Homo sapiens: one gene and its partners. The protein of the gene in region 2 purifies or fractionates together with the protein of the main gene of each other region. This does not show direct contact. Each region holds a gene or a part of one and is shown on either strand. Other genes may lie near its edges. The genes, in order: TUFT1, GUCY2D, MXRA7 and MOCS1.

Evidence for each region.
Region 1: the proteins of GUCY2D (region 2) and TUFT1 purify together in Homo sapiens (affinity purification with mass spectrometry; one large-scale study listed by BioGRID and IntAct). This does not show direct contact.
Region 3: the proteins of GUCY2D (region 2) and MXRA7 purify together in Homo sapiens (affinity purification with mass spectrometry; one large-scale study listed by BioGRID and IntAct). This does not show direct contact.
Region 4: the proteins of GUCY2D (region 2) and MOCS1 purify together in Homo sapiens (affinity purification with mass spectrometry; one large-scale study listed by BioGRID and IntAct). This does not show direct contact.

The regions. Positions count from the first base shown.
Region 1 is NC_000001.11:151,544,465-151,552,031, reverse strand, and holds part of TUFT1 (tuftelin), read right to left. Parts: intron 6,237-7,567; exon of another isoform or gene 6,141-6,236; intron 1-6,140. UniProt on the Homo sapiens protein: Involved in the structural organization of the epidermis. Involved in the mineralization and structural organization of enamel.
Region 2 is NC_000017.11:8,008,273-8,014,998, reverse strand, and holds part of GUCY2D (retinal guanylyl cyclase 1 precursor), read right to left. Parts: intron 5,494-6,726; coding exon 5,413-5,493; intron 2,856-5,412; coding exon 2,649-2,855; intron 2,550-2,648; coding exon 2,393-2,549; intron 1,897-2,392; coding exon 1,747-1,896; intron 1,120-1,746; coding exon 971-1,119; intron 399-970; coding exon 235-398; intron 141-234; coding exon 1-140. UniProt on the Homo sapiens protein: Catalyzes the synthesis of cyclic GMP (cGMP) in rods and cones of photoreceptors. Plays an essential role in phototransduction, by mediating cGMP replenishment.
Region 3 is NC_000017.11:76,680,870-76,688,436, forward strand, and holds part of MXRA7 (matrix-remodeling-associated protein 7), read right to left. Parts: coding exon of another isoform or gene 7,308-7,567; coding exon 7,244-7,307; intron 4,297-7,243; coding exon 4,203-4,296; intron 3,059-4,202; coding exon of another isoform or gene 3,025-3,058; exon of another isoform or gene 2,978-3,024; intron 11-2,977; coding exon 1-10.
Region 4 is NC_000006.12:39,922,516-39,930,082, forward strand, and holds part of MOCS1 (molybdenum cofactor biosynthesis protein 1), read right to left. Parts: intron 5,202-7,567; exon of another isoform or gene 5,064-5,201; coding exon of another isoform or gene 4,941-5,063; coding exon 4,814-4,940; intron 3,331-4,813; coding exon 3,163-3,330; intron 1-3,162. UniProt on the Homo sapiens protein: Isoform MOCS1A and isoform MOCS1B probably form a complex that catalyzes the conversion of 5'-GTP to cyclic pyranopterin monophosphate (cPMP).

The DNA of each region.
Region 1 (7,567 bases), on a different chromosome or scaffold from region 2:
ACCCTTGAGGTGGAGGTAGGTGGTAATTAGAAGGGGACATGAGGGGGCTTCTGCAGTGCCCGTAATGATTTGTTTCTTGATCTGGGTGCTGCTCACAGGAATGTGTCTAGTTTGTGAAAATTACTTGACTGGACATTTGTGATGTACATATTTTTCTGTATATATGTTACTATTAAATGTTTTTAAAAACAAAAAGTCAAAAACTCCTTATTATGGTATTAGAGTCCCCTTATGATCAGGACCATCACAGTTTATACCACATAAAATGTTTTGACTCCCTCCAGTACCCCAATGTACCCTGCACTCTATCCCCAACTTTTTCCTGATCCAATTGTAGAAGGCATCCAAAGCCAAGTCTGTTTCTGCTAACGGGTCTTCCAGTGCAATACGTGCTCCCACCTCCCCAGAGGTGCGCATGTTGCTTTCTCCGACCGGGGTATCCTCTCCTCCCTTGCCTCCTTGGAGAATTCCTGCTCAGCCTTCAAGGTATCTCCTCTCTGAGGGTCCGACCCTTATCCCAGCACTCCTCCCTCAGTCAGAGCACCTACTGCAACCTACATATCCTGCACTTTAACAAGGAGCCCATTCTTTTGTAACAATTCATTCATCTCCCCCGAGAAAATCATAAGCTCCTTGAAGACATGGATAGCTTATTTAGTACAATGGCTGGCCTAGAATAGGTTCTCAAAAAAATATGTTGTTGCATGAGTTCCAGGTGATATGTTCAGGGATTTTCCCAATTCCCTTTGAGAAACTCCAGCTCTTCAGTTTAGAGAAGCAGTATGGAATACTAGAAAAAGCAGACACAGAAAAGTAGCAGAGGAAGGTCAAGGAAAAACTGAGCAAAGACTAAGAAGGCAACTCTAAAAAGAAATAACAAGTGGCTAATGGAATAGGAAAGATGCTCAACCTCACCAGTAAAGGAAAAGGCAAATTAAAATGCTAATGAGCTATTTTGGGGGGATTTCATTACACTTATAGAAATATAAAGATAAGACATGTAGAAATATGTTCACAGTAGCATTGCATGCAATGGCAAAATACCAGAAACCACCCAGATGGCCCACTGACAAGAAAACAAATTTTTAAATTATATATTATTTTTGAGACAGGGTCTCACTGTGTTACCCAGGCGGGAGTGCAGTGGCATGATCATGCCTCACTGCAGCCTTGACCTCCCAGGCTCAATTGATCCTCTCATCTCAGCTTCCTAAGCAGCTGGACTACAGGCGTGCACCACCGTGCCTGGCTAATTAGAAAATGAATGAATAAACCCTGACATATTAGTACAATGAACTACTATTCAGCTGTGAAAATAAATGAACTATGAAACATGCATTGACATGAATAAATCTCAAAATAAGTGTTAAGTGAAAAAGCAAGCTGGGGCCAGGTGTGGTGGCTCACGCCTGTAATCCCAGCACTTTGGAAGGCCGAGGCAGGCAGATCACTTGAGGTCTGGAGTTTGAGACCAACCTGGTCAACATGGTGAAACCCCGTCTCCACTGAAAATATAAAAATTAGCTGGGCCTGGTGGTGCATGCTTGTAATCCCAGCTACTCGGGAAACTGAGGTGGGAGAATCGCTTAAACCCAAGGGGCGGAGGCTGCAGTGAGCCAAGATCACGCCATTGCACTCCAGCCTGGGTGACAGAGTGAGACTCTGTCTCAAAAAAACAAACAAACGAAAAAACTATTTGGGCCAGGCACAGTGGCTCACGCCTATAATCCCAGAACTTTGGGAGGCCAAAGCAGGTGGATCACCAGAGGTCAGGAGTTCAAGGCCAGCCTGGCCAACATGGTGAAACCCCGTCTCTACTAAAAATACAAAACACTGGCCAGGTGTGGTGGTGGGCACCTGTAATCCCAGTTGCCTGGGAGGCTGAGGCAGGAGAATCGCTTGAACCTGGGAGGCAGAGGCCCCAGGGAGATAAGGAGAGAGGTGCAGTGAGCCCTGTGACACTCCTATAATAAAACATATAAAGAGAAGGAAAGAAAAAGTACTAAACTTGGCTAGGCATGTTGGCTCACGCCTGTAATCCCAGCACTTTGGGAGGCCCAGGAGGGCAGATCACCTGAGTCCAGGAGTTTGAGACCAGCCTGGGCAACATAATGAGACCCTGTCTCTACAAAAAGTACAAAAATTAGCCTGGTGTGGTGGTGCACACCTGCAGTCCCAGCTACTAGGGAAGCTGAGGTGAGAGGATCAATTGAGCTCATAAGGTCAAGGCGGCAGTGAGCCAAGACTGTGCCATGCACTCCAACCCAGGTGACAGAGCGAGACTCTGTTTCAAAACAAAGTACTAAACTTGAAGTCAGAGGCAGGATGTCTGAGTCCTGATTGATGACCATTAATCCTTGAGCAAATCACTTAATCTCTCTGGGCCTCAGTTTTCTGTCTGTAAAATGAGGGTGATAATTTCACAACCGACATTTTAGGAAGAGTAGATAGATGTGCAAGAATGATGTAAAAGTGATTTGCAAACCATACATCTCTTCACAAGGGTGAAGCAGCATTACTTTCCCAAGTAGCTCTGGAAAGTCTGCAAGGGAAGAGGGTGGATGAGGTAAATTGTCTAATGGAGCTGATGAAAAACTTAGGGCTCTCTCTGGCACCTCATCCTCCAGAACTGGAGAATGCATCTTAGTCAGCAAGGCCACAGACCTCGGCCTGCACCCCCAACCCAGAGTCAAGGAGCAAATCCTGGGGCTCCTCTCTGCCTGGTGCACTTAGTTGTTTTCTAGAGCAGGCTTGCATTTCCTCAGGACTATGAGCAGGCTCCAGGGAGCTTTAGGAACACCCCAAAAATATCCGGCAGGGGGGTCTCTACTGGGTACTCTAAAAGGCAAGATGAGAAGTGGAGCCTTCTTCTCTAGGGAAAAAGGAGCAGTACTAATCACAAGGTAAGCAGCCTCTAACCTCATAAACATTTTTGGGAGAAGCCCAGCTACCTCCAAATTATAGGCAGCCTCACCACTCTGTTCAAACAAATCTCCAACCCTGACTCACTCCTCAAAGCAGGGAGGGGGTAAACACATAGCTGAGGGGTTAGAGATCAAGACGCCACAGCAGAGATAAGGAGATAAACAGGGAGGCCCCAGGGAAATAAGGAGAGAGGTGCAGAGTTCTCACACCACAGGCTCATGTGAATAGGGAAAAGCCTGCGTTCCCCCAGCTCTCACTCCCCAGGTTTTACAGGGGTCACTAGGACTGGGTAGGAGTCAAGTGTAAGGTTCTTTCTAAGAGGAAGTAAAGGAAGTGGAGATTGCCCCTGAGCTGGAAACCAGCAACCTTAATTCATCTTCACCCTGTATCCCACTCTTCCCTCACTTTGCCCCTCAATCCCACCCACTTTCCCACCCCAAGTGTACATGGCCTCTCAAGCTGCTGGAGGAGCAGTCACTTCAGTTTCCCCACTTTGAAAAATGGGAGGCTGGGCACGGAGGCTCAAGCCTGTAATCCCAGCACTTTGGGAGGCCAAGGCAGGCGAATCACGAGGTTAAGAGATTGAGATCATCCTGGCCAACAGGATGAAACCCCATCTCTACTAAAAATACAAAAATTAGCTGGGCGTGGTGGCGCACGCCTGTAGCTCCAGCTACTTGGGAGGCTGAGGCAGGAGAATCACTTGAACCTGGGAGGTGGAGGCTGCAGTGAGCCAAGATTGGGCCACTGTACTCCAGCCTGGTGACAGAGCAAGACTCCGTCTCAAAAAAAAAAAAAAAAGAAAAGAAAAAGAAAAAAGAAAAGTAGGAATAGCCAGCCCCTTGTAACAATGGCACCCAAGTGATCAGGATGAAGGAAGTCCCATAAACTCAAAGAACAGAGCCGGATGGGATAGGTGGGTACCTACCCTCTCTACCCTCTCCTTGAGTGAGGCTCGCACCCGACTCAGCTCATCAGTCTCAGGTACATGGTCCTGCCTTCTGCAGTGCTGCCTAGGCCAGAGATGGCCCTTTGTGGAGTATGACACAAAGAATCACTCCCTTTCTTCCTCCCCAGATTAGCCAACAAAACAGGTGTTTGATTTTTATGTGGCTGCCTACCCAGAGGCATGGGCTGGACAGGCACTATGTAGAGGGCTCACCAGGGTTACTGTGAGGTGAAATGAGAAAAAGGATTTGAGGTGGCACCCTACATGGGGCAGCCTTTCTCATTACTTGGAGCCCTAACAAAGGAAAACACTAGGGCCTAGCAGTGACAGTGTGTCTGTAGAGGGAAGTGAGCTCCTGAACCAACTCTGAAGGAGACACCCACTTGCTAAGCCAGTCTCACTCTAGGACACCTGCCTAGCGACCAGCAAACCTGGAATGAAAGGGCAAGTTCCTCAGTGCCCCCTCTGCATCAAAGGGAGTGGCTCTGCCCTCTCTAGTCTCTGACTACCTGCTTAGTGATTTTTGCTTCTGTGCTCCCAGACCCAAGAAAACCACGTCTCTTTTCTTCCTTCATCGACTCATCCCCTTCTTACCCTATATTGTCTCCTCCACTTCCTGCCTCTGCTGGCCAGGCTTAAATCTGGGCCACCAGCCTTCCTGGCACATACCTATTTCCGCAACTGAACCTTCCCAACCCCTAGAAAACAAAGGTATTTCACAAGCCTCTGCACCTTGACCCAAAGAGGCATGCACCATAATTACTAGCAGGCAAGGAAGCTCATCCCACCTCTCTGAGCACACGTGTCTGGAACTGAAACCATCTGGGTGCACGCCCCCCTCCACCCTGGAGAACTATGGGCAAATGTTAGTGCCAAATGCCTGATGATGAGGTAACTCTCCTCGCTCAGAGGAGATCCCTCCTTCTCTGGCAAAGCCCAGCATTCCCCAAATTCCTGGCAGCCTTGGTGACATCAGAAAAATGCAGTGCTCCTGAAAGTAAGAACCTGGCAATAAATGGGAGAGATGGGATGGTGTGAGGAGAAATTTATGGGCTGAGTTTAGGACAAGTTTCATGAGTAGAAGGAACAGGCAGCCACCAAACTTGAAAGGCTCCTCTGCCCAGCAGTTTTTCCCCACACTCAGATGTCACAGAACCAGGACTTCCACATTTTAGAATACATTCAGTCCTCTGGAGTAAGCAGCAATGGCTACAGATGAATCCTCCTTTAAAATGCAAATATTCTGACCCAGCAATCCCACTCCTAGGTATTCCTCTCCAAGAGAAATGAAAATATATTTCCACACAAAAACTTGTACACCAAAGTTCGTAGCAGCATTATAAATGATAGCCAAAAAGTAGAAAGAACCCAAATGTCCACCAACATTTATCCATGACGAACACAGTTGTAATACATCTAAATAATGGAATATTATTCAGCCATAAAAAGGAATGAAGTACTGATTCACATTACAACATGGATGAACCTTGAAAACATCATTCTAATAAAAGATGCCAGTCACAAAGGATCACATACCGATGATTACATTTATATTAAATATCCACAATAGGTAAATCCATAGAGAAAAAAAGTAGACTGGTGGCTGCCTAGGGCTGAGAGAGATTGGGGGGAAATGGGGAGTGACTGCTAATGGGTCAGGATTTCTTTATAAGGTAAGGAAATGTTCTAAAATTGATTTATTGATGATTGCACAACTCTGTGAATGTACTAAAAACCACTGAGTTACATACTTTAAATGGGGTATATGAATTATATCTCAATAAAGCTGTTCATAAAAAATTATATGAAGCTCATGGTAAGGCTTCAATAAATCACAATTCTAATTTAAAAAATAAAAGAGAGTGAGGCTCTGGAAAGACTTGGCATTAAACTACTTGAGCTTCTGAGGTCCTAAAGGAATGTCACCTATTCCACAGTAAAGACAAGTCTTCAGATTGCAGCTGATAAAAAAATTCCAAGTCCACCCGGGTGTTGGAGAACCTCTCTGGCCAAGACAAATCCAAAAAAAGAAAAAGAAAAAGAGAGAGAGGATGAAAAAAATGCAAATAGTTCCCAATTAATGTAGATAAATTTTAAAATGCATTAAAGTAATGGTAAAGACAATAAAAAGATGCTGTAGAAAAAAAAAAAAAAGAAAAAAATGCAAATATTCGAAAGAAAGATAAAACTGATATATTACTTAAAGAAACCAGAGCAGCAGGGGACACCAGCTGCCTTGGTCATGAGGTCTAAAAAAGAAGAGGAAAGATGCCCAGAGAGAGATGCCAAAATATGAACCCTGACCCATCACCAGTCTAAGACCAGTACTGGCTGAGTCAGGACTAGCAAAGGTTACTCAGGTCTTCACCCTGGGTCTATCTGTAGGCCTTCCTCTCACCCCTGGGACTCTCCACTGGTTGAGGGACCTGGATCATCAAGGAAACGAGAAAGAAACAGGAATAAACAAAAGTCAGCATAATGAGGAGGAGCAAACCTTGCCCAAACCAGAGAGTTCCCAGACTCTTCCTCCATCCCTTGGCTGGTTGCTTATAGGAGGTTAAAACAGTCTAGTCTAAGCCAGTAGAAATAGAAAATAATAGCTAACCTCTGAGTACTTACCACATGCCAGGCACTGTGCTTCATATTTTATGTGTATTATCTAATTTAATCCTCACAACTACCTTATGAGAAGGGTGCAATTATTATCCCAGTTTTACAAGTGAGAAAACTAAGAATGAAGAAATTAAGTAATTTGCCTAAGTGAGCTTGGGCAAAGCAGACATCAAAGCCTGATTAGAGCCCACCTTAGTCAGATTCCCAGAGCCATGCTCTTTTTTTTGTTTGTTTGAGACGGAGTTTCACTCTTGTTGCCCAGGCTGGAGTGCAATGGCGTGATCTCGGCTCACTGCAACCGCCACCTCCTGGGTACATATGATTCTCCTGCCTCAGTCTCCCAAGTAGCTGGGATTATAGGTGCGCACCACCACACCTGGCTAATTTTGTATTTTTAGTAGAGATGGGGTTTTGCCATGTTGGTCAGGCTGGTCTCGAACTCCTGATCTCAGGTGATCCACCTGCCTCAGCCTCCCAAAGTGCTGGGATTACAGACGTGAGCCACTGCACTCAGCCCAGAGCCATGCTCTTGACCACAATGCTATTAACAGAAACTAGTTTATTACATTACCAAAAATTGTAATACAATTACACTGGGAGGATGGGAAGGAAGCATGTCAGGGGTGGGAGTATAGATTTTCCTATAATTCCTACAACAGAAGTCAATAGATGTCTAAAACTGATAAATCAATTAAAATCACTGTAAGCATATTATTTAGAAACATGGAGGTAAACACAAAACAGCTCAAAGAGTAGAAAGTGGTTACTTCCATGGAGCAGAACTTGGAGCAGGGGACTGCTATTTTCTTTTAAAAGCCTTTTGATATTATTGATACTTTGATACTTTAAAATCATGCACATATGTGATTTTAAATGTCCGAGATCACGTCGTTGCACTCCAGCCTGGGCAACAAGAGTGAAACTCCTTTGATAAAAAGTGATTTAAGAGGCCAGGCACGGTGGCTCACGCCTGTAATCCCAGTACTTTGGAAGGCCGAAGCGGGCAGATCATTTGAGGTCAGGAGTTTGAGACCAGCCTGGCCAACATGATGAAACCCCATCTCTAGTAAAAGTACAAAA
Region 2 (6,726 bases):
TGAGCAGGTCCACAACCTCAATGGGCTCACTCATGGCAGAGATGGTGGTGAAGCCCACAATGTCACTAAAGTACAGTGTCACTTGCTCAAAGTACTCGGGCTCCACTGGTGTCCCCGTCTTCAAGGCCTCAGCCACAGACCTAGGGATGGCAGGCAGTGAGGTCACCTGGGGGCCACTCTACCTGGCTGGGCTCCAGCTGCCCTCCCAGCCCACCCCTTCCCACTGGCACCCACGGAGGCAGCATCTGTGTAAGCAGCCGGTCTGTCTTCTGCTTTTCCAGCTCCAGCTCCTCCGTGCGCTCCCGGATCAGATCCTCCAGGTTACTAGAGTACTGCTCCAGCATCCGAAGCATCGAGTCAATGATGTTCGTCTTCCGGCCCTTGTTGATGTTCTTGAACTAGCAGTAGAAGGAAGCTGGTAAAGCTGCTGAAGACCTGGGTTGCCATGCCCTCTTTATGCCCCCCTCATGGGCCCTCTCATGGGGCTGTTCACTCTGAACCCCAACCCCGCTGCCACCATTCATCTACTATTCATCAAGCACCCCGGGGTGCTGGGCACTGTGTTTTCAGACACGATTAGGAGGCACGTGGGAAATGAGGGTTCCCAGAGGTCAGTTGATCTCAGCTAGTAATTGACAGGGCACTGGAGCCAGCCCAATCGTTGGGCTCCCAGGCCAAGGGTCTTTCTGTCACAGCAGGCCAAGCACATACTTGGTTCTCAATCAGTGTTATTTGAATTGAATTGAATATTCCTCCCACCCAGACAGAACTCTATCTCCCACTCCAAAAGCCTCCACAGCCCCCATTCCAATTCTGCCCCCAAACTCCGAGTCTTCAGGCTACTCCTTAGGAGGTAGCCTGGAAGGCCAGAGGTCCTGCCAGCCTGCCTGTCTGCAGCTGTCTCAGGTTGCTGACAAGCATCTGGGATCCCAGAGGCCAGCCCAGTCCTTGCCCACTCCCAGCCCCTGACCAGGTCGAAGGTGTGGTCCATGGAGGGCCGAAGTTCCGGCTGCTCTGCCCAGCACTGCTTCATCAGGAGGATACACTCGACAGGTGCCTGGTCCATGGACACCAAGGGCCGACACAGTGGAGGGGGGCTCCGCACCCTCTGCACCACTTCTGGAGGCATGAGGGGACAGTGAGGGGGAGTGCCCCCAGAACACAAAGGCTGCCTCTGACCCTGGCCTGACTGTTGAAGACCAAGATGTGGGAGGGGGTGCCTGGCAGGGGTTTCTTTACATCAGAGGTTCAGTGTGTGTGTGTGGAGGGAGAGTATAGTGTGGAAGGGGGTTGCTAGGAGGAACAAGAGGACCTCGAACTCTGGGGGTCAGTAAGAGGTGACATAGGCAAAGAAACTAACATATTGTATGTAAGACAAGTGAGGGATAGGTGATCAAGTAGTTTGCTCAGAGTCCTGTGCAGAAGGGATGCACCCACTCCCCCTCCCCTGCTCCTCCCAGGGACCCCTGAGAACAGAGAGGAGTCTGTTCTGTCAGTTGTGGAAACAGTTTGGTTCCAGCATCAAGAAAGAGGAAGCTGTTGTGGTCTGGGACCTAATGAACCACGCTCCCCACCCTGGCCATGCACGGCTTTCTGCACCCAGACCTGCAGATGCCAGCTTTAAGGGGGCCTCCGTATAATTGAGTTTCATCACTGGGCTTTGCTTTAGAGGAAAGAGTGAGGCTGGCTCTTTTCTAACTGCAGGGTGCCCCTGTGGGCCGAACTCCACGCACAGGGCAGCCTTACCCTCGGGAGTGAGCTCCAGCATGGCATAAGGGGCACTGCGGCACACTACTTCTTGCATGATGATGGCCAAGCTAAAGACGTCGCCGGCCAGCGTTCCCCGGCGCTCCAGGGCTGGGTCCCTAAGCAGCTCCGGGGCTGTCCACAGCTGGTCTGGGGATGGGGAAGGGGCTGAGGCGCCGCTGGGGAAAGACTCCCACCCTCACCAGAAAGCCCAGGTTGGCACCCAGACACCACCAACCCTGCAGCCTGAGACCGGTCTGAGACCCTGCAACCTGAGACCAGCCCTGCAACTATCTCTAGGAGCCATCTCAGAGAAAGCCTGGCAAATAGGCCTTGCCCTTCAGAAAAGGTGGTGCCCAGGGAAGGCTCCGTCTCTTGGGCACAAGCCCCACCCTCAGGCAAACTTGTAATCAGAGCAAACCCTGCTGCAGGCAGCTCAGGTACAAGTCCCGCCCCCAGCAGCCCCGTCTCCGAAGTCACAGAGCCCACCCTCTCAGAGGCCACAAGATCTTTTCTGTAGCAGGAATTGTGTCTGGTGGATGTGGGATGAAGAGAGTGCGAGGGCAGAGGTAGGGAGGAAGCGGGGGAGAAGCCCTTGAAATAATGGGGATCCCGGTGGATCCTCGTCTGCACAGGGGACTCTTACCCTCCGCTCTGGGAGGCTCCGGTAGCACCTTCTGTGCTTCCAGCAGTCTCCCGTGGCCGTGGTCAGTGATCTTGAGTACGAATCTGCCATCCACTATGCAGTTCCGTGACTTCAGCCGCCCATGAGCCACGCCTCGATGGTGCAGATACCTTATTCCCTTGGAATGGGTAGGGTAAGAGGCAGCCTCAGCCTGCTTGGTTCCCTTGCTCCCCATCCCTGCCCCCAGGACGTCACCCCACCACCCCCAGACACACACCTTGATAAGGTCCAGCAGGAGGGAGGACTTGAACATCCAGTCCAGCTTTATTTCTCTCTGAGCGAGGAGGTCCTGAAGAGAGCCCCGCGTGCAGTGCTCTGAGACCACAGCCAGGTTGCCCTCCCAGAGGGCCGCAGGGCCTTCTGCTCCCCGAGCCAGGAAAAGCCCCAGGTAGAGGGCCACGTTCTCATGCCGGAGCTCCTGGAGCTGAGAGGGGGAGAGTTGACTTGCATTTTCTGCCCAGGGCAATGTGGGGAAGGGGCTGTTAATCAAGATCTGTTTTTGAGTATCCAGACCCAGAAGATGAGATTTTTACAAATGGTGGATGAAATGGTTGATAAGGTATGTACGGGGGCTCTCTTCTACACATAGTCCTATTTTTGGAAAAAACAATATAGTCAAAGGCCACTGTTTGGATACTGAGTATGGTTTAGCCTAATGCTGTGAATGAAAAGACAACTTTGCATTGGTGATCAGGACCCAGGCAGGTTCGGATTTATTGATCATAAGCCTTTTTTTTTAGACACGAGGTCTCACTCTGTTGCCCAGACTGGAGTGCAGCGGCATGATCATAAATCACTGCTACCTTTCATTCCTTGGTTCAAGTGATCCTCCTACCTCAGCCTCCTGAATAGCTGGGACTACAGGCTTGTGCCACCATGCCTAGATAACATTTAAAATTTTTTTTCTGTAGAGATGGGAGCCTTGCTATGTTGCCCAGGCTGGTCTTGAACTCCTGGCTTCAAATGATCCTCCCACCTCAGCCTCCCAAAGTGCTGGGATTATAGGCCTGAGCCACCACACCTGGCCCCAGCCATAAAACTCTGAACTGCCTGGGTCTTAAGGGAAGCAGCTCATGAAGGAGAAGCTCCTGGAACCACCATCCTCTCCTGATTTAACAGCCTTTGCTGGGAGAGCCAGGGAGGAGCGGTGCCACTTTCTTTCTTTTCTTTTGTTTATGTATTTTTTTTTTAGACAGATTCTTACTCTGTCACCCAGGCTGGATTGCAGTCGTGCAATCTCGGGTCACTGCAACCTCCGCATCCTGAGCTCAAGCGATTCTCCCGTCTCAGCCTCCCGAATAGCTGGGATTACAGGTGTGTGCCATCATGCCTGGCTAATTTTTGTATTTTTAGTAGAGATGGGGTTTTGCTATGTTGGCCAGTCTGGTCTCGAACTCCTGACCTCAGGTGGTCCATCCACCTCAGCCTCCCAAAGTGCTGGGATTACAGGCGTGAGCCACGGTGCCCGGCCTGAAGCTGTGCCACTTTCAAAGGACACCAGAAATGGCGTGTGCCTGCAACCTGGCCGGGGGCTGCTCTGCTTGGCGTTACGTCATTGTGTCAGTCGGGTCTGAGACTCCCACCCTCCCTCAGTTAGGGAAGACAGGACTGACTGCTCTGCAGGACAGTGCCCTCACAATCGGGGCATGCTAGAAAAAAAGGTGGCTTAGCTGGCTGACTGGTGCCCTTTCTAGCTTTTCCCTCCACATGCCCAATAAGGGGATACTTTTCTTTCCTTTCCTTTTTTTTTTTTTTTTTTGAGACGGAATCTTGCTCTGTCGCCCAGGCTGAAGTGCAGTGCCGCGATCTCGGCTTACTGCAAGCTCCGCCTCCCGGGTTCACGCCATTCTTCTGCCTCAGCCTCCCACAGTAGCTGGGACTACAGGCGCCCGCCACCACACCCGGCTAATTTTTTTTGTATTTTTAGTAGAGACGGGGTTTCACCGTGTTAGCCAGGATGGTCTCGATCTCCTGACCTCGTGATCCGCCCGCCTCGGCCTCCCAAAGTGCTGGGATCACAGGTGTGAGCCACCGCGCCCAGATACTTTTCATTTTAAACACCTGGTATTAAATGGTGATCGAGTTCATTAATCCCCATACACATAGTCCACTTAAGTCACTGCATCTGTGACCAAGAGCTCCTGTAGAGGAATCAGGGAAGAAGGCCAGGCCCAGGCTGCATGGCATGGAGATAAAGGGAGACATTAAGGTTGTAAGGACCAGAATAAGCCATTTACAGCCTCCTTGCCAACTTTGCACTTCATTCAGAATGTCCAGGGCTATTCTGCACAAGTGGCCTGACAGAACCGGAAACTCATTTTTTATTTTCTATCATTAGATCAACAAACATTCACTGGGTCTCTCTAATGTTCCAGACACTGTGTTGGGTGCTTGATTACAATGGAGGGGAGTGAGGAGGCCCTCACTCAGCTTACAGTCCAGCGAGAGAGGCAGAAACAAGCAGGCAGACAGATGAACATACAATTGCACATTGCAACAAGATCAAAGGAAAGAACTAGTGGTGTGGCAGAGAATAATGAAAGCCTACTCCAGGGTGGAGGAAACATGTTTTTTTTTTTCTTTCTTAATTTTGACAGGGTCTTGCTCTGTCACCCAGGCTGGAGTGCAGTAGTATGATCACAGCCCACGGTAACCTCCAACTCCCAGGCTCAAATAATCCTCCCTCCTCACCCTCTGAAGAGTAGCTGGGACTACAGGCATGTAACGCCACACCCAGCTAATTTTAAAATTTTTGGAGAGATAGGGTTTCTTTATGTTGCCCAGGCTGGTCTTGAACTCCTGGCCTCAGGTGATCCTCCCTCACATCTGCCTCTCAAAGTGCCAGGATTACACGTATGAGCCACCACACTCAGCCAGAGGGGACACTTAACTGAGACCTACCTCTGTACCCAGCTGCAAAGAGAAGGCAAGGAGGGAGAAACCGATGGCCACCTAGGCCCCATCACAGGCCCAAGTCTCACCTTGGAGAAGGCCGTCTTGGTTGCTGGGCGGATAGCTATGTGCTGATCCCCTGGGAATTTCTTCAGCCAAACCCTGTCTCCCTGCAGCAAAGAGGATGGGGGTAGGGAACTCAGTCTCTTAAAATCCCACGATGGGGAGCCCTAGAACCCCTCCCCCTCATTTCCATTGGCTCACTGTCCCAGAATGCATCTTCCATGTGACAAAATGCATTGAACCAAGGGGTTTGATGTATGCCCATCCACTTCACAGCCATCTGGGAGAGGGCCCACCCCTGGATGACAGAGATTCTGAAGCCATGGATGGCTGTCCTCACCAACCCAGCTGTGCCCACCAATAGTCCTATTAAGTGCATTAATACAACCACAAGTGTCATCGACATCACAACCCTCATTACCATCCACTGCCATGAGAGAACATGTTCTGGGAGTAAAAAATCTGGGTAGATCAGGCTTTATTGAAAACTAACTGAACTATAGACAGCTCCCCTCCTGATGCTGGACCTCATCCTCAACTGTTGGCAGGGCCGGTTCACAGGCATGGGACCTGTGCAGTCACACAGGGCCTCGTGCTCCGAAGGGCCCAAGCTTGGTTCAATGACCTCCTGCCATCATCATGAATGAACGAGGAGCCCCTCATTTCTATCTTGCCCTGGATCTCGCTAATTATGCAGGTGGCCCTGTCTTGTTTATAAGGGATTTGGACTAGAAGGGAATTTAGAAGGGAATTGGGGTTTAGTACTGACCCCTAAGGAGCATTTGGAAATAAATGTGGGGAAAGTTTTAACTGTCACAAAAACTAGGAGCTGCATTAGTGGACAGGGCCAGAGACAAGAAACACTAAATATTCTTCAAGGCACAGAGTAGTCCCATACAATTTAGGACAATCTGCCCCAAATGACAATAGTGCCTCCTCTGAGAATTGGCCATGATGATCTCTAGGTGACATGATAGGAGCCTCTGCATTCCTTCCCATGACCTGAAGCCCAGGAGCTCTAAATTTCTACTCTCTTGATTTGCTCAGCACTCTCAGCTCTCTCTCAATCTGTTCTCATCATCTCCCCTCCACTTGACCGCATTCAGATTTACCAGCCCCAAAGTTAATGTCCTAATACTTTTTTGTGACTTTCTTTTCCCCCTCTAGGGGTTGCTATTCCTGAGTCTGGTCTGAATTGGGTGGAAATGCTGAGGGGCAGGGCCAGAGGCTCTGACCAGGCCGGAGATGGTCTCAGTGGCCACACCATGTTACCTGCTGGTCCCAGCATGCTCCCTGGCAGCTCCAGCCTCCAGTCTCTGGGTCACTGTGGTTAGCTTTTG
Region 3 (7,567 bases), about 69 Mb from region 2:
TTCTTCAGTTCTGTAAAGAGAAATGGGGAGAAAAAGATAATTTATTTTACTCATTCCATCCTGCACCATGGGCAAGGAAAGGGGGAAATGGGGACGAGGAAGGAGAATGTTTGGAATTGCAGAAGCTGCGCTAGACTCTGGTTTCTCAAACCACTGCTGATTTGCTTCTCATCGCTTGCAGCAAGACAGTCTGTGCCGCCAAGCCGGCCAGAGCTTGCAGAGCTCCCCTTGATCCCGCACAGAACCTGGCAGCCCACAGACCCTGTTCAGCCTCTGCAGGGTACTTAAGGAAGGAACTTGGGCATTTGAGTTGCCAAGGGCCTTTCTGATCTTGGGTTGTGTGGTTGTGCTGACAATATTCCTATCACCCTAGATAATTTCCCATTCCCGCTGGCTGAGTTTTGTCCCCTCGGGGGATACTGGCACCCTAGGATGCACGCTTCCAGATGGAGCCAACTGCATGCCCGTCTTTTATGAACCAAGACACACTGCCAGCCCTGGGACCACTGAGAACCCAGCAGGTCTGATCTTGTCCCTCTGACGCCCTCTCCTGGTGGTCACAGTCAGCACGCATTTCCAGCCTGAGCTGGAAATTCACACTGGCAGGTCTATTGTCTGTAGTTTCTTGCATACATCAGATGGAAGAACCAGAACTACCCCACAGCTGGGGTTCCTTGGCCTCCTCCTCCCCTTCCCTGTTTTACCACACTAGCACCTTCCTCTAGAGTCATGTCCATTTCCAGAGGAGTCAAGACAGCCCTGCAGACCTCAAATGGAGGGGTGGGTCCTGATCTATCAGAGCCAGCCCAGTCTATAGCCTGGGTTCATTTTCCCTCTGAGACCACAAGGTGGGAAGAAGTGATGGAGAGGAGCTGACAGCCGCGCCTGTTCTTTCTCCTGCCAAGCTGTGAAGCCAGCCAAGCCCTGCCAGCTTCCCTAGCTCTGGGGGAGGAGGAGGAGGCCTCTTGCTCAGGGGAGCTGTCACCAGCCTGCAAGCCCACTGTCCTAGCCACACTGTGAAACTGGAGGTGGCACTTCCCACAGCAGCTTCAGCGGAACCCAGGGACGCCACCAGAGGCATGAAGTGTGTGAAACTCCGGCCCGAGGGGAGAGCTGAGGAGGCGGGCAGACAGTGGCAAGCAGGATCTTAAGCAGCAGCTGCCTCTGGATTTACAGACCTGACCGCTTTCTGGCCCCAGGCGGAAGGAATTTGATCTGTGAGTAGTTCAAGGATGAGACTGACCACTTCAGCATGTCGGGGAACTAATTGGGGGCCTTCTGCTTCCAGTCCCACTTCCTAATTGTCATGAGAGCCTGTGAACTGAAGCTCCTGGGGAGTGCTGGAACTGGCAACCACTAAAGCTTCAGGTTCTAGATGCAGATCTGTTGGCTGAGCTAGTAAATTTAAAGTTAGGGGACGTGCAGCTTGTAGCTGCAACTCGACTGGACCCTGAGAGCTGGGAAAGGCATCAGAGGCATGGAGGCCGGGAGGGTGGAACCTGACAGGCGGAGAGAGAGCACCCTGCTAGCTGGCCTGTGGTTTTAGTGGTTTGATAACAACAGGCATGTTATTTTTCATACTGATGATTCTAGGGCGGTTCCCTGGACTTGGCTGGGACCAGAACTGTCTCACAGCTGCCAGCGCTCCCCACCCCCATGAGAACCATCGTGCTGAAGATGAAGAGCCAAAGCCAAACTGACCAGCCTCTGCAACCCCAAGCATCACCGTGTGAGGACAGCGTGATGTGGAGCCGCGGAGACCCCACGCAGTGCTGCGAGGGGCAACCACATGCAGGGGGGCAGAGGTGTGGGGGAGCAAGCAGATGCCACCGGCATGCCTAGGAGCCACAGGGAGCATGCGGGCTGGGCAGTGATGGGAATGAACGTGAACTCCAGTCCTGCCCCAAGAAGTCCTCCGGCCCCTCCTTCTCAATTCAGGGCACAAAGTGGTAACTGCAGCATGCAGAGGAGTCGAGGAGTCTTCCCTCGTCCCAGGAGCAGCACCTCGGGCACAGTCTCGGTCCCACAGAACAGCCAAGTGTGGGTTGGTGGTCTAGAGACCTCCAAAGATCCAGTGGGGGAAGGATGGGCAGCAGAGGGTCTACTCTCTGAAAATAAGGGGAAGGGATTTTCCCTCCCCACTGCCAAGGTCCCAGCTCTGGACGTGGGTGGCAGTGGCAGTTTCACCCCCAGCCGGAGGCCTGGTCTTTCTTGTTCTAAGAGGCCCTCCAGATCCATCTGCCTGAGCAGCCTCTGTCCCCAGGGACCTTCAAGGGCTGGCAGTTGTGTCCAGCCCCCTCTAGCCTCTGTCCAGGGACTGCAACCTTTTTCTGCAAACAGCCAGATACTACTTAGATTTGGGGGGCTGTGTGGTCTCTGCTGCAGTGACTCACCTCGGCCACTGCGGCACAAAGAGGCACAGACCACAGGAAAATGGGTGAGTGTTGCTACTACTGCCACGCTGGATTGGCACAGGCAGGTGGGGGATCAGATGTGGCCCGGCCGTTGTCTGCTAACCCTTGCCCTGATCCTAAGAACCTGCCTGTCTCACAGCTTGGGAGCACGGACCGTTCTCAGAGTATCTGCTGTGCACTGTGCAGAAGCTGCCTCATCTTCTCAGGGTGAGACCCAAGGCTGCAGGGTGACGACATCCACATTTCCGAAGCCTGAGGTCCCAGGGTGACAGTTCCCCCAGCCTTGCGAGGGGGCGCTAGCACCCCAACCTGCCGGCCCATTAGGCCCCCTCCAGGAACTCAGGGACTTAACTCCCCTCCAGGAACCTCTGCCCCCAGACGGGGCCTCTTCTGCCAGAGATTCCTCGTGCTTGAGAAGAATGAGAAGGGCTCAGGTGGGAAATGTATTAATCGGTTATGAAGGCGATGGAGGAGGGGAGGTTGAGGCCGCGTCAGTTGTTTGGGGGCACGTTAGCACGCAGTAGAAGGGGAGCACCACTAGTCTAAGAAATCAGTGTCCTTACCAAAAGGATTTGCAAGAATATTTGTGGCTCAGGACCTAAGGAACTTGCTACAGGGAAGTGAGGTCAGAGGTCAGCTCAATCCTGAAATATAAATGCAGCAAACCTGGTCATGCCAAGCGGCAGCATCCTCAGCACCTGAGGACTCGGGGCTCCTGCCAGGGCTCTTCCTCCTGGCTGTGCTTACACTGCCCGCCCCCCACCCACCCAGGGTGAAGAGCTTTCCTGCTGAGGGTCGAGAGCGCTGATGCCAGCAGCGGGAGGGGAGACAGGGCCTGTCACCGGCAGAGCAGCTGTGAGGTTAGAGGGCTGCCCGGCGGGTGGCTTGGCATGCAGCCATGAGAGGGCAGTTGAGTTCTGATTCCAAAATCATAAACCACCCCTCCTGCTCGGACCCTAGACCGCTGGTTTCTGCTGACAAGTAGGGGGTGATTCCCACAAGCTGCTCTGGGTCGCCAGGCTTGGAAAATGGCACAGCTACCACCTAGACTTCTGCTTTAACCAAAGGACTCCAGGCCACGCTGCAGAAGGGCAGCAGTGTGGGTGAGCACCAGGAGCCTGCTGCGCCTGGTGCAAAGGACTGTCCCTCTGCTGAGACCTCCCCAGCTGTCCCACTGTGCCCAGCGCACCCCTTCCCCGCCCAGCAGGATGGTGTGGAGGGAAAAGGTGGCGGGGTGCCCAGTGGCTGTGCAGGGGGTGTCCAAATGGGAAGGGGGAGCCAATTCCAACAACGAGAAGCCATAGCTGCACTGCCCGGAGCTACAAGGCGCTGCTGCAGGCGCCGGCCTGGGAGGCCGCTGAAGGATGAGCACCAAGAATCCGCTGTGTCCCGAAGGAGAAATGGAGAAATCAGCTCTGTTGGGGACTGTGTGTGTGAGTGACAGCCAGGTCTGCTCCAGGCTCTTTCCTGGCATCTCATTTCTTTAGATGGGGGCAGTGGGGTGTGGAGGGGGTGGGGGGGTGCAGTAAATGGGCTCTGTATCCCCCATCACCAGTGGCCTCCTTCTGGTCAGTGCCAGGGAGGGGTGCCAGGGGTGTGCGAGCCTGGCTGACCAGGGCAGGAAAGAACTCCTAAACTGGGAAGGTGGGGCGGTGGTTGGGCAGAGCGTGTAGGAGCCCCACCTCCTTTCTGGGCCCTTCTGCCAAGGGGCAGGAACATGAAGGGCTCAGAGGGGCACCCCCCTCCCCCAAGAGCCCGCCAGGCGCCAGCGAAGGGGCTGCAGCCTACCTCTGCTCCTCCTCCAGCTCCTCTTTGGTCATCATCTTCTTGTACTGGTTTCCCCTCAGCTTCCCGGGGCTGTATTTGAAGGAGAAGCCTTCTCCTGTGGAGGGGGGACCCAGTAAGTGCCAGGAGTGCTGTAGAGGCTGGCCCCACAAACCCCGGCCCCCTTTCCCTAGGTTTAAAAAGAAACACCTCAAGCAGAGGCCACATCTGGCTATCAGAGACATCTCACCCCAGCGCCTATACCCCCTCTCGTTCCATAGCTTTCCCTTAAATCCTACAACGAGACAGCCAGAGAGAAAGCAGTCCTACTCCTAGTCCACAGCTGTCTCCAGATGCCACATCCCTCCCAACATCTGCAGTGCTCTGCCTTGCCCTGGCCCTGCCCAGCAGGTCCTCTCGGCTACTGAGCTCAGAGGCGACAACTCCGGCAAGCAGAGCACAGCTCATCTTGGGACACACACCACGCCTGCCTGGGCTTGGGGAGGCTTGTGTCATCCCCCCACCCCCTGTGGCTATTGGAAATCTGAAAACACGCATCCAGGCAGCCCACAGTGGCCAGGCCAGGGATGCGGGATTTGCTGCAGCAGGTTTGACGTGTGTACCGCTGAAGAGGCAGAGCCCGATTTGCCAGTCCCCGAGGGGAGACCCCCCATTGCTGCCTGCAAAAAACGGACAGATCTCGAGGCCTGAAGAGGGCACATGGATGGGTAGGTGGTGGGCACAGAGGAAGCCAGGACCTGTGGCCTGGAGTGGACACAGGCTCCGGGCACATGAGCCACGGTGAGGAGAGAAAAGCTGAGCTTCCAGAGGGAAAAGCCCCATGGGGGAGCAACCTCTTGGTTCCTGAATCCAGCAGGTGTCGGGCAGAGCTGGCTGGCCTCTTATCGACCTCCACTAACTAAAGGACCCAGTGAGGGAGGCATAGAGAGATCCTCAGCTGCTATTCTGGAAGTGCTGCCCTCTCTGTCCCTCCATATCCTGTCCAGCAGCCCGAAAAGCCAGGCCCCTCCCCTCTAGCTTGCAGCCTTCATGCTACCGGATAGGCTGATGTGGACCGATGGGGAGGCGGGGGGGCTCTCAGGGTGAAAGGAAGAAGGTTCTAGATGCGAATTCAGAACCCAAACATCTGGTTGGGTGTGGTGGCTCATGCCTGTAATCCCAGCACCTTGGGAGGCCAAGGCAGGTGGATCACTTGAGGCCAGGAGTTCGAGACCAACCTGGCCAATGTGGCAAAACCCCGTCTCTACTAAAAATACAAAAAATTAGCCGGGCGTGGTGGCAGGCGCCTGTAATCCCAGCTACTCAGGAGGCTGAGGCAGGAGAATCGCTTGAACCCGGGAGGCAGAGGTTGCAGTGAGCCGAGATCGCGCCACTGTACTCCAGCCTGGGCAATAGAGTAAGATTCCAGTATCCCCCTACCCCCCAAAAAAAGAAAACATACAAAATCCTGCCTTGGTCCCAGTCTTAGGTTTCAATTTATGGGGCAAGTCTGATTAGTTTTGTTTTCTGAGCCAGACAGAACAAACGACTTGAAAAGGATTTCGCTCAGTCACATGCAGTGCACCAGGCAGCGCATCCAGTTTTGCTAGACCAGAATTCAACGTGACAGCCTCCGAGGGACGGGGGAGGTTTCTTCCTCCAGTCTCCTGTGAATTCACCTAGTCGCTCAGGGAAGTCATTTTAGCGACACTAATAATTAACCTCTGAGGCTGCCTCGTACTGCAGAGGGGCTGGAGGTGCTCACACATTCTTCCAACAGCTGGAGCCATAAACCTTTCCTTTCCCTGCCTTGCTAGAGATGGCAGGAGGCTAAGATGGCAGGAGGCGCTGGGGGTGGGGGATGTTCAGGAGCAGCGGTGCAGATAAGGGGGGAGGCTGGTGACAGTGCTGGGGGACTGTGCCCTCTGGCAGCTATGCCAGGGAGAGGGGTCTGCGAGCCTCTCTCCTTGTCCTTGCCAAAGGGCCTCCCTCCCGTGTCCCCAAGTCACTAACAGGATCCCTGCATCCCTTCAGCTGTCTCAGGCCACATGGCAGGGACAGATGCCAGGGCCATGGCTGCGGTGAGTCCCCAGTCCCCAAAAGCAGGGAGCAAGGGTCCTTCCTGGTAAGGGACTAATGTCCCCACCTGCAGCCCACCGCCTGCACCCAAGCTTCATTCTCCCCTCCTGCTTCAGGCTGTGCTGATGGAAACCAAGGCACTGCCTCAGGGGAAGCTCTGCACCCCAGCCCAGCCTGCCCGCAGGAGCTGGTTCCTACATTCCTGAAACCTTCTCTTTCCACTGCTCCTGCCAGCAGCCGACTTAACATCACAAAAGCAGACTTGCTTTTTTAAAATTATGAAATATTTCAAACATACAAAAATGCAGAAAGCACTAATCCTCCCTGTGCTTGCCACACAGAGCCAACAAACGCTGACATCTTGCATGTCTGCCTCCGCTTTCTTTTTTAGAGAAATAAGTGGATGGACCCAGCAGAAGCCACTCCATGTTTGGTTCCGCCTCTGTCTGTCCTGGCCGGGTCCGATCTGGCAGTGTCTCCCCTGTTCTCGGTCACTCCCTTTCTCCTCTCAGTCTCATGGCTGGGGCCTGTGGCCAGTCAGCCAGAGCTGCTTAGAAAGCAGGCGTGTGCCCTCCTGGGGCCTTCGTTCTGAAGAAGGCACGGGGGAGGCCGTGTGAGTGGTTTTCGTCTCAGTAAAATAGGTCAGAGATGTTTGGAGAGAATCGTGAAATGTACAGCGCGGTCACAAAAGGGGAGTTAGGAGGCAGCGCAGGACAGAGCCAGGCAGGGCGTGTAGTGTGTTCCCAAGAGGGGCCCCGGGATGGGAAAGCCAAGCCCCAAAGTGCAATGGGGGTGAGGGAGGGCTACAGGCAGGCCAGGGCAGGACATCCATGGCGCCAGACTCTACCTCTCATGCCCCACTCAGGCCACTGTCCCACCCCATCCCTCCCCTCGGCACTCGAACCCCAGCTCCTGTGATCCCCAGCAGGACACAGACCACCCCCGACACTGTCAGGCCCCCTCATGAGCGCAGAGGTCCCACTCACCGTCCTCCTCCTCAGGCCCTTCCGATGATGGCCCCTTCTCACCATCCAAGTCCTGCTCCTCTTCCTGCAAGACAAGGACAGGGTCAGTGCCCTTGGCACAGACTGGGTGATGGGAAGTGGTGGGGGGGCAGAAGGTAGGGGAGACAGAGGAGGCCCTCGAAGGTCCAGCCTGCCCACGCCCTGTGGCAGCGCCTGCCCTGTGGTCATGGTCAACCAGCAGGTGGGGGCTGTGTACAAACGATGGGCCAAAGTGACTCGGCTCACAAATGCTGAGCTGAGGCGTGTTCTTGACTGTGCACCCCAAGCCCTCGGCCTTGGCCTTTC
Region 4 (7,567 bases), on a different chromosome or scaffold from region 2:
ATGCTCTATGGGACAATGCTATTCATGGCCAAACCCGCCATAACTTTTGCACCAAGATAATGCTTTAAACCCATCTCAGCTGAAAAGAAGGGGCATGGGACTTTGTCTGCACACGAAGCAGGGTGCAGAAGTGCTGGAGAGGCAAGGGGTTGGCAGAGGGAGCCAGAGAGAGCTGAGGGGCCCAAACCCTTCCCGTGGGGTGTTCTGCAGCACCTCTCAAAGGCTGACAGAGCTTCAGACATGGACCTGAGGTGAACGGGACCTCAGGCTCGGCAGAAACTGTAACCTGCAATCCTTTTGCTCTGCCTCCAGGTGGGGGCCCCTCAAAACCCTCACGTGAGAGGGTAGGCACAAGTGTTCGTGAACATCCTGGCCCTGACTTCTGTTCTCTCTCTTCCCCCATCCCTCCTTCCTCCACCAGCACCCATCTGCCCTGCCCTTCAAGGCTGCTTTGCTCTGAAGCAGCTCCTCTGGGGAAGATCAGAGGCTAGCCCCTGAGGGATGTCAGAGTGCTCACAGGCACAGCGCCACAGGAAGTGAGGGGGTGCAGCCACCATTCTTTTTGAAGCACTGGGAGAGGGGCAAGGGGAGGTGTTTCACCCACCCCCACCACCTGGGAGGCAGGAGGTAAATCCTCAGAAGCAGGTCACTGCAAGCGGGGCCTTGTCCTAACTAGCATCCATGTGGCGATCACCCCTTGCCCATCCCATTCCATCAGCCAGGGCCAATAACCACAGAATATCACAGCAGAAAACATCCTTAAAGTGGCTCATCCACAGCTGAGGAAACTGAGGCCCTCGGTGGGGAAGGAACCTGCACAAGTTCACCCAGCCAGAGAGTGGCAGAATGGGGACAGAGCTACCAACTTTCCTGGCTCCCATTCTTCCCTCTCTGCATGCTGGGGTTTCCCGGGAGAGCCCCGAGTCCTCATACCAGTGCTCAGCCATCCTGTACCTCCCTGACCAGTGAGTGATCCTCATCCCCTCTGCTCTCTCACAGGTCCTGGCACAAGGCGGCCCATGCCCGCGGGTGCCAGGGAGAGGAAGTGGCCTGGATGAGGGGGCTGGGCCTGGCAAGCAGCTGGTTCAGCAGGTTCAGCCCTTTCCTGGCAGCCAGCCTGCCTTTTAGCCCTGAGGAGCTGCCTGGAACATGGGGTCAGCTTGCCTGGGCCAGCTCAGCCAGCACAGGATGACAGAGGTTCCCAGGCCAAGTGACCAGTAGGAGCTGAAGGGAGCTGGCCATGGGGCAGGAGGGAGAAGAGGGCTGTCAGGGGGACCTGGGCCCCTCCTTGGGACTCTCACAGCACCTAGGCTCCCCTTATACAGCAGCTGCTTCCTCCAGTGGGCCACAGGTCCTCAACAGCAGGGCTGGTGCTCATTCATCTTCGTGTGCTCAGCACAGTAGGAGGCATGCAAGAGGGCACTCCAGCGAACAATTACTGAGCTAGAGAGCTGAGGGGCGGGGGGTCCTGTCCAAAGCAGCTGGACGGGGCAGCAATCAAGAACATGGAACCTCATAGCCCCGATTTCATCACCTATAATTACATGAGCAAAGGTCTCTTTCCTGATCTTGGGGTTTAGAAGCTCATGGCAAGAGGCCCTTTAGAGCTACCTTTACAGAGCACTTGCCATAGGCTGGGCATTTCATTCTCATTCCCTCCTCAGGTCAACCTTATAAGGTAGGTACTATCACTGCCTCAAGGCTTAGAACAGATTTTAAAAGTTGCCCAAGGTACGCTTCTTGTAAGAGGCACAGTGGAGACTCAGATAGGAATATGCCGTACTGCAGAGACTACTCTGACCCAGTCTCCATTCATTCAGCGAATTTCAGGGAGCATCAACCACGTGTCAGGCACGGTACTGGATGCCAAAAACAAAACCTGCTCCAGCAACCTGAGAGCTTTCACGCCAGCGAATGCAGGAGACAGACAATTAAAGAAACCAAACACACAACCCAAACACACAGTGCCAGGATGAGATAAATGCTATGAAGCAAAACAAAGTAGGGTAAGTGAGTAGGGCAGGGGTTGCCACACTTTTTCTGTGGAAGTCCAGATAGTAAATATTTTCTACTTGGCTGGCCAGCTTTGCAACACAGTCTTTGTCAACACCATGCAACTCTGCCAAAGCAGCCATGGGCAATATGTAAATGAATGGGCATGGCTATATTCCAATAAAACTCCATTAATAGACACTGAACATATAGGATTTTATAATTTTCGTGTGGTAGAAAATGTTATTATTTTATTTTTTTCCCCATTATTTAGGAGCATAAAAACCATGGCAGGATGCAGTGGCTCACGCCTGTAATCTCAGCACTTTGGGAGGCCGAGGTGTGTGGATCACTTGAGGTCAGGGTTTCGAGACCAGCTTAGCCAACATGGTGAAACCCCGTCTCTGCTAAAAACACAAAAAATTAGCCAGGCATAGCGGTGTGTGCCTGTAAGCCCAGCTACTCTGGAGGCTGAGGAAGGAGAGTCACTTGAACCTGGGAGGTGGAGGTTGCAGTGAGCCGAGATCCTGCCACTGCACTCTAGCCTAGGTGACAGAGCGAGACTCTATCTCAAAAACAAACAAACAAACAAACAACACTCAGTTTGCACGTTAGACAAAAACACATGTCGGCCCAGATTTGGCTGCTATAACTTGCCAATTTCTGGGAAAGAGTGGCTGGTGTGAGTACATGAGGACGCACTTTAGACAGGATGGTTGAGGAAGGCCTTGCTGAGAAGATGACATGTGAACAGAGACCTGAATGAGGTCGAGGAGAGTGCCCTGAGCTCCTAGCAAAGGGAACAGCACATGTCAAGGCCCGGTCATGTGAATGGGAAGGAGGGGAAAGGTGGAGAAGCCTGCAAGGGTTTTGGAGGTCAGCAAGAGCCAGGTCACGTGGGCCTCCTGGAGGACCTTGGTCTCAATGTGACAGCAAGCTACTGAGGTCTGGCATTTGCGAGCTTCCTGACCTTGGGCAAGTTATCCAACCTAAGCCTCATTTTCTCATCAAAAATGGAAATAATAATAGCACCTGTCTCAGCAGGTGTTGTAGGACCAAGAGAGTGTCATGTGCTAAATGAATGTCAGCTGCCACTGTTAACATCGGCATCAGTGTCCAGCCGGATGAGGCAGCGCTGGGAGAAGTGGCGATGACTTTCGTCCAACTCACCCACAATGTCCACCACGTCCGGCCGGATAAGCGGCTCTCCACCTGTGAGCCGGATCTTGTCGATGCCTTCCTTCACAAAGAGCCGGGCGAGGGTCAGGATCTCCTCTGTGGTCAGCAGGTTGGCTTTGGGGGTCAGCGGGACCCCCTCCTCGGGCATGCAGTACTGACCTGAGGGAAGGATGAATGGGAATGTGGAGGGAGGAAAGAGGCACGGCCACAGCCCCGTGATGCCTCCACTCCCCAACTCTCCATCAGGCCAAAGGCTTCTCAAACCCATCTGGATGTGAGCGGAGACCTCACTAAACCTGAGGTGGAAAAACCCCAGGCCAGCATCTCCCCAGGCCTCACCTTTCTCATTTCTGAAACGTTAACACCTTTCCCTATGCCCAACACACACAATCTGGCCATAACATCCCTCAGTGGGAGGCCAAGGGCATGGGTTAGAGATGAAGTAGGCTGAGGGCAGAGCCTGGCCTGACTTCCTGGGCTGAGGGCACCTGGGCAGGGGCGTTCCTCCTGGCATTGTCACCCATCCTCCTGCATTTCACTGGCTATGGCAAACAGGTAGCTTTCTCTCTGTGTGTCATGGGGTGAGAGAGAGGTACTCTCTGGCCTGGCAAAAGCTGCCGTCCTCTGTAGCTACAAGCATTCTCAAATCCACTCTATCTATTTCAGGTTATCATCAGACCCATTTTATATGTTGGAAAACTGAGATACTACTTGTTCATGGTGAGGTATCAGAATGGGGTAAATGAGGTGAGCAGCGGCAGGCTGTGGAAGGGCCACCATCCTCCACCATCACTTCCTGTGGTGCAGTTTCATTAAGGTTTGGGTCAAGATCTGTTAGAGAGTCATGAAGGCAAATTACTCAGTTGGGTCCAGAACCAGTCCTTTGAGACTGAAGAGAATAAGTAAGACTACCAGAATGTAAAGCATATAGTACATCTTGTTTGGTTAAAAAGTTACTAAACATACATGCATGCATTTATTGGGCCATGAAGTAACTTTATTTCTTATCGTGAGGTATAGTGAAAGAAAGTGGGGAGGAAAAGAAGGGGGGGAAGGGGGGAAGGGGAGGGGAAAGTGGGGAGAGGCAGAAGGAAGGAACAGAGGGGAAGGAAGATCAACTTTGGAAGTCCCTCCAGCAGTGGCTACAGATCCAGAGCACTCTTTGGGAGGATTATGAAATGAGGCCTCTTTGTTATTAGCCTAGCCCCAGCTGATTTGTCACGGGACTGGGGCACCTCCAGAGTCAGCAGTGCTGGCATGGGCATGGCTGTCTACTTCAAATGTTTATAATGTCCACCACCCCACCCCTGGCCATGTCCTGGACTTCGGGAACTACAGGGAAACAGGAGGAAGGACCCCTGAAGAATGAGAGGTCCAGGATCCAATCTTAATTCTAAATCCAACTGCATTTATGTTTTCAAATCTAATTCCAAGTAGGACACAGCTTCTATAATCATACAACTCAGCCTTGACCCCTATCTTGCCCCTGAAGCCCACCTGGCCTGGTAAGCAAGGGGTAGCAGGTGAAGAAGTTAGAAAGCAGAACTGGAGGACACAGGAGGATTTCCAGGCACAGGGAAATTTCAAGGGCTGCTTCAGCAGATGGACACCAGCCCAGAGAGGGCCCAGGAAGGTGACTCACATCTGAGGTTGCACTTCTCTGTGAGGGAGATCCGCAGGTAGCTGTGCTGCCGGCCGAAGCTGTCTGTGAGGAAGGCGGAGAAGGGGGCCGCATGCTCCCGCAGGAACTGCCTCCGCCTGGACACCTCCTGCGAGGACAGACCAGGGAGGAAGCATGGGCCCCTGCTACCGGGCTGGGAAGAGGCACAAGGAGAACCGCCTGCCCCCTCCCTTACTCTGACATCTGTGCGGAGCTTCCAACTCTTCCACATGTTTGGGCTCTGCAATGTTGGGGAAGCTGGGATTGTCCCTCTCGTTGAGAAATCAGCTTGATGGGAAGGACCCACCCCTTAAGTATTCAGCTTGGGGGTCGGGGGCGGATGGTGATCTCTACTGGGAAGATTTCTGGCTGGGCAGCAAGGTGGAGGCAAGGGTGTGGGGAAATCTATTAGCCCTTATTCTTCACTCTAGCCAGTGCCAAAAAAAGGATTGTGCACCCATGGTCTCGGGCATAAATGAGAAGAGACTGCTGAAGGCCACAAGCAAGGCCCAAACCCGTCCTGCAGAGAGAAAGGAGGGAGCCGGCTTCACTCTTTCCCATGTACAAGTCTGATCTAGTCTGATCCGTCTCCCCCTGACCTATCGGTCCTTGGAGAGTACAACCTGGGTCCCGACAGATGCTGATGAGATAATTGCTCCAAGGAAGTAGCATTTACCAAGCATCTTAAAGTTTCCAAAGAACGTTCTGTTTCATTCCCACACCCACTCCACAAGGGATTATTATAACTAAGGCTTGGATGGGGTCCAAGAACACCCTCGGCAGAAGCAGGATTCAAATCCAGGTCTTCTGATTCCAGGTTCTTTTTTTTTTTTTTTGAGATGGAGTCTCGCTCTTTTGCCCAGGCTGGAGTGCAGTAGCGCGATCTTGGCTCACTGCAAACTCCACCTCCCAGATTCATGCCATTCTCCTGCCTCAGTCTCCCAAGTAGCTGGGACTACAGGCACCCGCCACTGCACCCGGCTAATTTTTTGTATCTTTAGTAGAGACGGGGTTTCGCTGTGTTAGCCAGGATGGTCTCGATCTCCTGACCTCGTGATCCACCTGCCTTGGCCCCCCAAAGTGCTGGGATTACAGGCATGAGCCACCACACCCGACCCTGATTCCAGGTTCTAAATTACTCCCTTCTATCACAGAGAGAGTCCAAGAAGATAGGGAGGATGACAACTAGGGTGGGTAGAAGTCACTTCTCTAGAATATTTCAGACAAAAAAATCACGACCCTGGAAGTCATGCATGAGATCTACAGACAAGGTTCTGGAATGGGAATAAGAAACCCTGGTTTCTGCAGTAGGTATGACCTGGTACACTGTGAAAGTCCCTTAACTTCTCCAGGCCTGCTTTCCCAGTTGTAAAATAAGAATACAGCTACAGGCTAAGGTTGTCTTGCTAGGAGTAAAGACAGGGGTGGAGTGGTAGTGGTGGTATCAGAAGATGGTAGGTGAACACTTAAAATTATGATGAAGAACAGAAGGTCTCAGGCCCTCCAAAGGTCTAGCGCAACTATGCCTACAATTAGGAGGAAGAAGCATTTGCTTCAGTAAGTTCCTCAGCTCCAGCTGCACATTAGAACCATCTGGAGAACTTTAAAAAAACATTCCAGTGGAGACCAACTAAATCTGGATCTCTGAATCTGTTACGTTTTCAATCTCTCCAGGTAATTCTCATCGGCAGCCCTTGACTGGGTCAAGAGCCACTGAGTGGCTCAAAGATAAGAGACATGAGAGTATGTGTGAAGCTGCTCTTGATTTTCTGGGCCCATAAAACATTCCTCACTCTACCCACCGCGGGAGAATTTCCCACCTCCTCTGAGAAGCCCTGCTCACCATCCTGTGGGGAGTAAGCAGCAGTCACTTCTCTAACTGCCGTCTGCTATAATCACAACAGTCACTTCCTCCCTCCCTGCGGTATGATGGAGAAAACTCAAACTCAACCCATTGCCTTTCCACAGATAGCCTCAGGGTTGGGGCGGGGAGCACTCCATAATCAAGAATCCCATCAGCCACCGGAGTCCAGATGAGATACCTGGGAATCTGGATGTATTGCAGTGCTGTGCCCTCTTTTTCATCAACAGCTATTTGCAATTCAGTCATGTTAGTCACCCTAGATTCTGCCTCTTCACTTGCCAAGATACCCCCCCTCAACCCAGTCTTGACATGATGGGGGGATGGGGTGGCTGGATGGGGGAGGAGTCAAAATACATCAAAGAATTGGAAGTTGAGAGGACCAAGGAGCATTATTCAGCAGAAACCTGAGAGCAAGCAGTGTGATGGAGCAATCAAGAATGGAATTAGGGGCCGGGTGTGGTGGTTCACGCCTGGAATCCCAGCACTTTGGGAGGCCGAGGAGGGCAGATCATTTGAGGCCAGGAGTGTGAGACTAGCCTGGGCAACATGGCAAAACCCCGTCTCTACTAAAAAATACAAAAGTTAGCTGGCTGTGGTGGCGCGAGTCTGTAATCCCAGCTACTCGGGAGGCTGAGGCAAGAGAATCGCTTGAACCCAGAAGGCAGATGTGGCAGTCAGCCAAGATCGCACCACTGTACTCCAGCCTGGGCAACAGAGCGAGATTCTCTCAAAAAAAAAAAAAAAAAAAAAAATGGAATTTGGTGCTTTTGTTCTGGCAATGGGAGAGGCTGGTCAGATTTCACTTTTAAGAACTTCTGTGACCTTGTCTAGACTTATGCAGACTGCACCACCCGTTCTGAACCCAGCCTCCT